3 linked regions of the Homo sapiens genome follow. The protein of the gene in region 2 purifies or fractionates together with the protein of the main gene of each other region. This does not show direct contact. Each region holds a gene or a part of one and is shown on either strand. Other genes may lie near its edges. The genes, in order: CKAP5, BTN3A3 and UFSP2.

Region 1 (3,654 bases), on a different chromosome or scaffold from region 2:
TTATTTTCCTTATCGACTAGGTTGGAGAACCAAAGGATGTCATTCGTAAAGATGTTCGTGCCATCCTGAACCGGATGTGCCTTGTCTACCCAGCTAGCAAGATGTTTCCCTTTATCATGGAAGGAACCAAATCCAAAAACTCTAAGCAGAGAGCAGGTGAAGCAAACAGTTTAAACTGAGATGTGAATCTCTGCAGCAGTAGCCTATAGAAGAAATAGTTTATAGATGAACAAATAAATTTCTCCAGTGCCTATGTAGTTGATTCCAACCTCCTGATTTAGACTGTGAGAGTGATGAGTTGCACACTGGTGGAGCCATGGTATCAGGTGATACAGGCACCACTCAGTATCACCCTGGTGACAAAATCAAGTGCACAGGGGCCATCTGACTCACAGGCATCTCTTCCTTTCAGGAGCACTTGCTGAAATACCATTTTTTCACTGATAAAAGGCAGTAAACAAAAAATCCTAGGCAGAGCCAGAGTAAGGTTTTAGTCCTTCATATATGCCAAGGGAAATTTCTCTAGTAAGGATAAGTCTCTGTCCCAAATATGTGTTGTCTCATTAATCTAGCCTTTCTCCCCCATCAGAGTGCCTGGAAGAGCTGGGATGTCTGGTTGAGTCCTATGGCATGAATGTTTGCCAACCAACCCCAGGAAAAGCCTTAAAGGAAATAGCTGTTCACATAGGAGACCGTGACAATGCTGTACGCAATGCTGCACTCAACACCATTGTAACGGTGTACAATGTACATGGGGATCAGGTGTTCAAACTGATTGGAAATGTGAGTGACTTCTCTGAACACTGTCAGCATGTCGTGAAAAGAATTGCAAGATCTCCTAGGTGTTAGGTTTCCTGTCCTCTCAACTGTAGCTAAGTTTTTACTACTTTTTAGTCAACTCAACCTATCAATGTGTCCTAGAATCCAGATAGACCCTTGAGGTGTCTCTGATTAGGCTGTTTTAATGGAAATCAAGTTTTCTTTTCTGAGCATTCTATTCATAGCAAATTTGCTTTAGAAATGAGTGCTATTTTTGAATCAAGAAATCTGAGCTAGTCCCGGGTTTAAATTCTGCCTGGCAGTCTGCTCTGTAATTTTTACTGCATCGAGTTTTTGGTTAAAAAGTGCTTATTTGTGTATAGTGTGGATGCTAGTATCTGTCAGATCACATCTTGCGCTACAGCCGTGAGCCAGTTTTTCACTCACATTAGGTTCTGCCTCTGACCTCTTATTTCGTTTGAGTGAGTCTGGACCTCCGTCTTCAGTTACCTCATAGTGTCACCATGTATTTACACAGGGCTTAAATATGTTTACTTATATTTTCTAATTAAATTCTCACTACTACCCAGTGAAGAATATAAAGCAGTTGGGAATTTTACAGATGACCAAAAATGAAGTTTCTTGCCCATAGTCACACAGCTAGATAGTGGTGACAAAACAAAAAATGAGGAAGCTTCATTTAATTTTTGACCTTTTTATTTGTAGTTACTAATTGGCTTTCTTTTTTTTATCGTTTCTTTTTTTTTTTTTTTTTGAGACAGGGTCTTGCTCTGTCACCTAGGTTGGAGTGCAGTGGTGTGATCATGGTTCACCGCAGCCTCGACCTCCCAGGCTCAAGTGATCCTCTGACTTCAGCCTCCTGAGTAGCAAGGACTACAGGCGCGTGCCACCACACCCAGCTTATTTTTATACTTTATGTATAGATGGGGTTTCACCATGTTGCCCAAGCTGGTGTCAAACTCCTGGGCTCAAGTGATCCTCCTGCTTTGGCCTCCCAAAGTGCTGGGATTACATGCATGAGCCACTGTGCCCAGCCCCTCTCCTTCTTTCATATCTCCTCTTCCTATAGCAGCTAGGCAGGTATTAATAGTAGTTGATTTTGAAATGTGGTGCTTTGAAAGTAAACATGTCCTAACATAGAAGGTTCTATTTGTTTTGATATGAAAATAGATATTATTGTGTTATCCAGTTAGGTTTCTAAATTTGGCCTCTTTACAGCTTTCTGAAAAGGATATGAGCATGCTCGAGGAGAGGATTAAGCGGTCAGCAAAGAGACCCTCTGCTGCACCAATAAAACAGGTGGAAGAGAAACCTCAGCGTGCACAGAACATAAGCTCCAATGCCAACATGTTACGCAAGGGACCAGCTGAGGACATGTCTTCCAAACTCAAGTATGTAGATAGAGATACTTGTCTGAGAGCATCTCCATGGCCTTTGCCTTGTGTGCTCACAGCCTGTCCTGTAACATAATCTTGAGTTCTTGTAGCCATTATCATGCATGACAGAGTGTCTGGGTAAATGTATTGTAACCAAATGTTTGATTCTTCAGTCTTCATTGTCTTTGTCTTTGTCTCAAAACCACTTCTAAATGGTCTTGTGCCTTCTTTCACTGCTTTTCCGTGGACAGAATTATGTATCGCACTTATAGGATGTAAGTACTGCCTGCTAATTTCTCATTAGCAGGGCTCTTATATCTTTCTAACTTCTGACTTGGATTCATCCCCTCTGGAGGGTGACTAGCTTAGAGTTTATAATCAGGGTAGAGGGTGTCCATAAGTACCCCATGAATCAAGTCTTCCACAAAAGTTCAATGTCATGTGGCTAAAATACTGATTCACTTTCTTCTTTGTGTTATACTTGGTTGTGCTTAGTTTCCTATTCTTGAGATAAGGCTAATTAAAATACATGCAACCCAAAATTGGCTTAGGGACTCAAAATACTGCCTCCTAAGCAAGACAGCTCTATTTTGGGTTGTGTCATGAGTATAATTTTAACGAACTTGAATTTGGAAACTTTGAATCCCTATTTCTTGGATGTAAAGCTGGCCCTGACCTGTCAAGAGTGAATATTCTAAAAAGGGGTGACTGGTGGTCTCACAAAATATAAAATGTGCTGAACACGGCATGGAATGGTACTTATGATTAGCAAAATTAAAGCACTGGTTAATTTGGTGGAAAAGAACCAGCCAGTCTAAATTTTTCTTATATATTTGCTCATAAGTAGTGAACTTTGAGTCAATACAAATATATTTTATTGTTTTCTGCCCCTTCAGGAATAGAAATACAAGGTTTGTTGGCTTTAGTGAACTAGAACAAATACTTATAACTTGGCAGGTAATGTAAGTACAAATTAAAGTTATCTGCCCTCTTAGGATATTCATGAACCAATGTTGTTACCTATTAAAGGCACTTGCTTAGACTCAGGGACTTAAATCATTCAGGGGGGCTGAAACCAGAAGTTGAACATCTGTCCTGAAGCTTTGGGGCAACTGACAGTGCTACTCTTGCCCTTTGGTTAAGAAGTCTCTTTTAGTTCAGGAGCCTCCTTTTGCTTCCCTTAGCCAAGCCCGAAGCATGAGTGGGCATCCTGAGGCAGCCCAGATGGTCCGCCGAGAATTCCAGCTGGATCTAGATGAGATTGAGAATGACAATGGTACAGTCCGATGTGAAATGCCAGAACTTGTTCAGCACAAACTGGATGACATTTTTGAGCCAGTCCTTATTCCTGAACCCAAGTGAGTTAAACTCTTTCATTTAAATATGAGCAGTTCATGATGATCAGACGGCCTACGTGAAATGTGCCCTTTGTAATGTGCAGTTAAAACTTTTTAGAACTGATTATTTTTTGAATGATAGCAGTTGTTAACTAAGACCT
Region 2 (3,566 bases):
AATAAATTTGTGTTGCTTTAAGTTCATGAATTTCTGAAGCCAGGCGCGGTGGCTCATACCTGTAATCCCAGCACTTTGGGAGGCCGAGGTGGGTGGATCACAAGGTCAGTAGATCGAGACCATCCTGGACAACATGGTGAAACCTCGTCTGCACTGAAAACACAAAAAATTAGCCAGGCGTGGTGGCACGCACCTGTAGTCCCAGCTACTCGGAAGGCTGAGGCAGGAGAATCACTTCAACCTGGGAGGTGGAGGTTGCAGTGAGCTGAGATCGTGCCACTGTACTCCAGCCTGGGAGTACAGTGGCACAATCCAATCTCAAAAAAAAAAAAATGTCTATACATTTCTGGTAATTCAGATGGCAACAACAGAAAATGCATCCAATAAGGGTCTTGTGAAAATGCTGCAGTGAGGTAAACTGAGACTGTGGTGAGTACAGTGGGTGTGCAGACTACTGTGCTGAGTAGACACCACAGTCTAGAAAAAGCCAAGCTGAGGAGTAAGCATTATTAACACATTTATTGAACAACTAGAACTTGACAACCACTTGCCAAGTAGAGGGGATACAGTGGTGAGCAATAATAGTGATGATAATGAGGAGCAGTTTTCCCTAGCAGGCAGCAGTTGAAAGGAATATGGGTTTAACATCCACCAATGACCAGGAGTGGACAGACCTATTTCCAGGAGACTGAGTCCATAGTGGGATTAAAAACATCCCTGTAATTCTTTTAGCTTCCTTGATCCAAATTTCCTATATCACAGAGAATCTCTAGGGTATTTGCTCTGCCTGGAAACCTTGATTGAAGGAAGGCTGGCTCTGGCTGCACAATCACTTATCACATTTGTTGGGTGGGAACATATCTGTGCCCCATGATTTATCAAGTGTGGCCTCTAGTCTCTTTCCAAGTCACATGTCATGTTGGTACTATGAGGTTATTCTCTCAACCAAGACACTCTGCAGAGCTAATCCAAGGAGTGCTGGGTCTAAGTCTCTGATATCAGCTGGGAAAGAGTCAATAGGGATGTCAACTCCACAAGCACTTAAAATGATCTCTACCCTGCAGCTGTCCTGGGAAGGAAACCTCAGGGCTACATGTGGGCTCTTCCTGTGGGAAAAAAAATCAGGCTGGAAAAGAACAGGCAATTAGCCAGGGACTAAGGCTGAACATCTCCCAACTGCACAAATTACTGTATGAGTTATGTAAGTTACTTCATGTTGCCCTGCCTCAGCTTCCATACTTGCAAAATATGACTACCCGACAGGGTGTTGTGAGGATTAAAGGAGTGACATCCACCAAAGCTTATAACACAGCACTAAGAACATTTTAAATTCTCTGTTAATGTTAGTTATTGCTGTTTAGATCCCAGCTCTGCTGTTCACTTGTCATGTCTACTTTGTAAAGTTAATTCACCTTTCTGCACCCCAGTTTCCTTATCTGTATAAGGGGACAATAAGGTGGTACGAAACTCAAAACAACTGTCATATGGAATAATGGAATGAATATCAGTAAAGTGCTTCAGTGCGTGCCTGTAGCTTATGGTTCTGATTGGTTGTTGCAGAAGGGGAGACCTCAGCTCCAGGGTGGGCAGGGAGAAGCAGAGATGTTACTTCAGCCTGAGGCTCCCCACTTTCATTAGCTAAGCCCGGGGTCAGTGGTGTCTCCAGGGAATGATCAGGCACTAGGTCAGGATCGGGGGAACTCTCTACTTCTTTTGGTATTGGGCAAATGGTCAGGGCAGTGGGCTCCAAGGTCAAAATTCTGAAAACAGGATATAGAGGCTCAGAGAAAGAGGCGTGCGGAAAGGTGTAGATATGAGATCCATCTGTGGCATTATAGAACGAGATCTCTCCAGTCTCATAGTCCAGGAAGATCCCCACTTTCCTAGGAGGCTCAGGAAGTTTCAGGTTGGTTCTGGGCTCAGTGAGAGCCCGATACTTATTCCCATCAGTCAGGCCCATAGTCCAGTATCCGTTCTCCGGTGTCATTTTGACCCAACCTTTTTTCCTCTCCACGTTCTTACTACATACCCCAATATGCCACTCTTTTCTGTCCCCCACTTCCACCTCCCAGTAATGTCTCCCTGATGTGAAGTTTTCACAGCCAAGGACACAGTAACGCCATTCAAATCTCTCAGGGTTGTCTGGCAGATCCCGCGGCTCTTCAGCACGCTGCACACTCCTCTGGTCCTCAGAAACAAGGAGGATGGCGTTTGCCGTGTCTGGATCCAGAATCACATCCGCTGCAGAGAGTTTGAGGAGGTGTCCATGGGGTCAGCCATTTTTCCTGGATTTCAGAGCCTCAGCATGCAAGGCCTGGACCATGCTAAGGAGGTCCTTCCAGAACCTGGCGTCCCTAGCCTGCTCTAAATATGACTCTCTCATCAATGTCATGGGAGAAAGCTCAAGGGGTCTTGTGTCCAGAGGGGAAATGAAAGTAAGGTCAGTATCTGCCTAACCCAATACCCTGATGCTGCCTCAGGAAGCAATAAGGATCCTCTTGCTACATTTTTCTTGTTTCCCTCCCCACATTGACTCTGCCCCCTAATGCCTTATACTCAGAGGTTAATTTTCAATCTTCACTCGACCGCTTATGAACTAAATGAGCTCCCCTTTTCTGCAGTCTATTTTTCCATACATCCAATTTATTTAACAAGGTGGAGCCTCATCTGAAGCATTTTGTCACCTGAAAAATGGGGATAAAAATATGACTCTCTAGCGTAGTATAGGGGAATCATGTTATTTACTCAGCCCACAGCAGGGCATGAAGGAAGCTCCTGATGTTCTAATAGCTGCAAGGCCGTCTCTATGCTGGGCTCTATGAGGGGCCCCAGATTCACTCTCCAGCCTTCAGCTTTTTCCACCCTCTTCTGGGTCCTAGGAATCTGTACTCTAAGGATAGTGCCACTGGGCTCCCTTGTCTTCTGGTTTGCTGTTGGGTTTGGCCAATGGGAGGCCCTGATAGAAGATTGGAAGGAGAAAGAAAGGAGAGACACACTGTTTATTCTCCTGCTTCCTCCCTGCCAGCAGCAGCTGATGCTACTCTAACAAGGCCTGACGACTCTTCTCAGGGAGCCCTCTCTTTTGAGCTACTTTTCTCTGGGTTCCAGTAACTGCCTCCCCTTCCTAGACCTCCCAGGCTAGGAGTGAAGACAGCTCCCCACTGTTGGGAACCATGGGGGCACTGCACTTTTCCTTATTGCTTACCCTTATCCCTCCTTTCCGCAAACCTTTTTCAACCAACCAGTTTGAACTTGTCATCTCTTTCTTACTTGGTTTTTGACCAGTGGATATTTATTATTACTTCAGTCTTCACCTCACCCCCACAAAACACAGATTGCAATTTTCATTTAAAAATGTGGAGGCGAAAGCTCGGAAGCATTAAATCATTTGAGGTGACACAGGCAGTAGGGGGCATGAGAAGCCTGGGAAGTGCAAAGTTCTTTGGGCAGGCATCACCTCCTCTCCTTGGCATTTGCATCCTCACTCTCCCTGCAGTATCACTCAGTGTGTGTCTCCTTCCCCTCAGCTCCACCCTTTATGTGTCTTCCTTCCCAGGAAGGTCTGA
Region 3 (3,654 bases), on a different chromosome or scaffold from region 2:
AACTGCATTTCCTGCTCCTGGCTGCCTGGCTAACTCTGCACCTCTCAGTTCAGATTCCCAAGAGAAAGAAAACTTGGCTATCGTATGGTGGCATTTATTAATACCTTCTGAGCGTCCAGGACTTTTGAGGAAATCTTAAGAATTAAAAAAATGCATATACGATACAGTACGTACCCTAGATGAGTTAGGGGCCCACTTGTGGTCTTGGTCATTAGAGTGTACTCAGGGCAGCAGATCATCTGCAAAAGCTGTGGGCCAACCAGCTTCCATAGAAAGTTCCTCACAAAAAGAATAGTTCCTTAGAAGAACCTGGACACACAGAAGGTATTGAATGAGTACTGATTGCTTTTTGACAATAAAATAGGTTCATTATATCTGTATTACAAGGTCGTAAGAAAAATATATACTTTACATATTTATCATGTAATATTTGATATGTACATATAACATATGCAAATTGTAAAGCACAGTGGGGAAATGAATACCAGGGAGCTCCTCCCTAATTTAAGAAGCAAAACTTTACCAGTCTGTGCTCTTTCCCTACCCACTCCTCTGCCTCCTCGACACAGTTCCAGGAGGAACTATTATGGGTTTTGTGTTCATCATTTCCTTCCTTTTTAAAAAGTAGTTTCAGCGTATATGTTACATATCAATCTCAGCAATGTCGCTTTTAGTATTGCATAGTTCTGAGTTTTATAAATATGGTATCATTCTGTACGTAGTCTCTGCAGCTTGCTTTTTCACTCAATATTACATATCAAACATCTCTGGTATTTTGTCTAACCATAGTTAATTATCTTTATGATTTTTTCCAAGTTTTTTTGCTGTTTAGACAATGAACATTCCTATACCTCTCGATACATATGTGCAACAGTTGTTAACATTTTGCTATATCTGCTTCATTTCTCCCTCTTTTTTCCCCCTCTGAACCATTTCAAGGAAAATTATAGATATATTATTTACCCTTAAATACTTTGGCACAAATCTCTCAACAATATAGATGTGCATTCATGAAATAAACTCGGTTTGGTTATGACTCATTATTTTTTATTCCCCTCTGGATTCCATTTGCTAATATTTTACGATTTTTGCATCTATGTTCGTGAATGATACTGGCTTATAATTTTCTTCTCTCATACTGTTCTTATTTTGTTTTTTTATTAGTGATATACTGGTTTACTAAATTAGTTAGGTTAATGTTCCTTTTTTAGTTTTTTAGAGAAGTTTATATAAGAGTGGTATGATCTTTCCTTGGTCATTTGGTAAAACTTGCCTGTAAAACAATTTTGGCGTAGCATTTTCTTTGTGAGAAGATTTTTAGTAACCAATTTAGTTTTGGTAACAGCTTTAGGACTTTTTGATTTTTATAAGTTATTTACCTAGGTTTTAATATATCTTGTAGTCATAATATTTTCTTTTTCATTCTTCATATCATTTTTATGCCTTGTGTCTTTTAAAAAAAAAAAAACTTTTGGCTTTGTTGGCCCCCTCTATTATAACTTCTGTATTTGATTTTATTAATTTTTGCTCTTTACTTTCTTTTTTTTTGCTCTTTCTTTGATTTATTGTCTTTCTTCTAACTTCTTAAGTTGGACATGTTAGCTTATTGCTAATATTTCTTTCTTTCTTTTTTTTTTTTTTTGAGATGGAGTCTTGCTCTGTTGCCCAGGCTGGAGTGCAGTGGCACAATCTTGGCTCACTGCAACCTCCGCCTCCTGGGTTCCAGCGATTATCCTCCCTCAGCCTCCCAAGTAGCTGGGATTACAGGAGGGTGCTACCACGCCTAGCTCATTTTTGTATTTTTTAGTAGAGATGGGGTTTCACCGTATTGGCCAGGCTGGTCTCAAACTCCTGACCTCGTGATCTGCCTGCCTCAGCCTCCCAAAGTGCTGGGATTACAGGCGTGAGCCACTGCGCCCGGCCTAATCTTTCTTTTTTTTGAGATGGAGTCTTGCTCGGTTGCCCAGGCTAGAGTGCAGTGGCATGATCTCAGCTCACTGCAACCTCTGCCTCCCTGGTTCAGGCAATTCTCCTGCCTCAGCCTCCCCAGTAGCTAGGATTACTGGCAATAGCCATACGCCTGGCTAATTTTTGTATTTTTAGTAGAGACAGGGTTTCATCATGCTGGCCAGGCTGGTCTCGAACTCCTGACTTTAGGTGATCTACCCACTCGGCCTCCCAAAGTGCTGGGATTACAGGCATGAGCCACCGTGCCTGGACAGCTTTCTTATTTTCTAATGTAAGCTTTTAAATTTCAAGCAAAGCACTGCTTTTAGTGTATCTTATAGGTTTAATTTGAAGGATTTTAGTTTTGTTCACTTCTAAGTATTTTTATATTTTTCTATTATGGTTTTTCTTTTGTCCATGTATTATTTAGAAGTGTTTGTTAATGTCCAAATATGTCAGAATTTATTTTTCTTTTTTGCTTTTTTTTTCTTCTTGTTTTAACTGGTTTCTGACTCTTGCCTCCTGGTCAGAAAGAATTCTAAGTGAAACTAACTCTGAAATTTATTGAAACTTGTATTTGTTCCCTAAAAAATAATAACATATTTGATGGCTTAAAACTACAAAAATGTATTGTCTCAGTTCTGGAGTTCTGAAAGTAGTATCACTGGGCTGACATCACAATGTCAGCAGGACCACCTTCCCTCCATAGGCTCTTGGGGAGAATCCATTCCTTAATCTGATGGCTGCCAGCATCCTTTGGTTTGTGGCCCCATCATTCCGATCTCTGCCTCCTCAGTCACATTACCTTCTCCTCCTATGCCCCTCTCTTTTAAGAATATATGTGATTGCATTTAGGGCACACTAGGATCCAGGATAACCTCCCCATCTTAAGATCCTTAATCACGTCTATGAATACCTTTGCTTTCCTTTTTTCTTTTACTTTTTGGCACAGAGGGTGCATTCACAAGTTCCAGGGATTAGGACATACATACCTTTTGGGAGCCACTTTTCAGCCTGTCACAATGGTCAAGTTATAAATTTTTCTATCTGTGCTTGGGCAGAATATATATTCTCTAATTGTTGGGTGAGGGTTGGTTCTATCTTGTCCCTATCTCCTCTCACTTAATTTTTTAAAAATATCATCAGTTTGGAGCCAGGCATGGTGGTGTGCAACTGTAATCCCAGCTACTCAGGAGGCTGAGGCAGGAGGATCACTTGAGCCTAGAAGTTCAAGACCAACCTGAGCAACATAGTGTGACCCAATCTCAAAAAAATAAAAACAAAAACCCAGTTCTTTAATAAAAAAAGACATATACATTCTTAGCACTATAAGTAAGAATTTATATGATATTAGTAATTTATTTATCTTTATTTTTTGACCCTTAACTTAGCGTCATCAAATAACATACTTGGGCTGTAATCATAGCAGGTTTATAAATTTAGACACATTCTTCCTGTGTCCCATGATATGGACCCTTCATTTGTTTGTTCATTCCTTTATTCCTTCCTTCATTCATTCAGCATTTATTCAGCAGCATTTATATTAACCGTGTGCCAGGCGTGTTGTAGAAGCTTGGGCCCAAAAATGGATAAGACACAGTGTATGTACTCACTGAGCTCACATATTAGTGTAAGTAGGCAGATATTTTTTAAATGATAAGTAATGTATCATTTAAAGTATATCAAGTCATGATATACTTTGAAAAA

What was found.
Region 1: the proteins of BTN3A3 (region 2) and CKAP5 purify together in Homo sapiens (affinity purification with mass spectrometry; one large-scale study listed by BioGRID and IntAct). This does not show direct contact.
Region 3: the proteins of BTN3A3 (region 2) and UFSP2 purify together in Homo sapiens (affinity purification with mass spectrometry; one large-scale study listed by BioGRID and IntAct). This does not show direct contact.

Annotation. Positions count from the first base shown.
Region 1 is NC_000011.10:46,759,129-46,762,782, reverse strand, and holds part of CKAP5 (cytoskeleton-associated protein 5), read left to right. Parts: intron 1-20; coding exon 21-156; intron 157-283; exon of another isoform or gene 284-394; intron 395-589; coding exon 590-783; intron 784-1,998; coding exon 1,999-2,171; intron 2,172-3,340; coding exon 3,341-3,514; intron 3,515-3,654. UniProt on the Homo sapiens protein: Binds to the plus end of microtubules and regulates microtubule dynamics and microtubule organization. Acts as a processive microtubule polymerase. Promotes cytoplasmic microtubule nucleation and elongation. Plays a major role in organizing spindle poles.
Region 2 is NC_000006.12:26,450,350-26,453,915, reverse strand, and holds the end of BTN3A3 (butyrophilin subfamily 3 member A3 isoform a precursor), read right to left. Parts: intron 2,242-3,566; coding exon 1,505-2,241; 3' UTR 501-1,504; downstream 1-500. UniProt on the Homo sapiens protein: Plays a role in T-cell responses in the adaptive immune response.
Region 3 is NC_000004.12:185,408,934-185,412,587, reverse strand, and holds part of UFSP2 (ufm1-specific protease 2), read left to right. Parts: intron 1-174; exon of another isoform or gene 175-3,654. UniProt on the Homo sapiens protein: Thiol-dependent isopeptidase that specifically cleaves UFM1, a ubiquitin-like modifier protein, from conjugated proteins, such as CD274/PD-L1, CYB5R3, DDRGK1, MRE11, RPL26/uL24, TRIP4 and RPL26/uL24.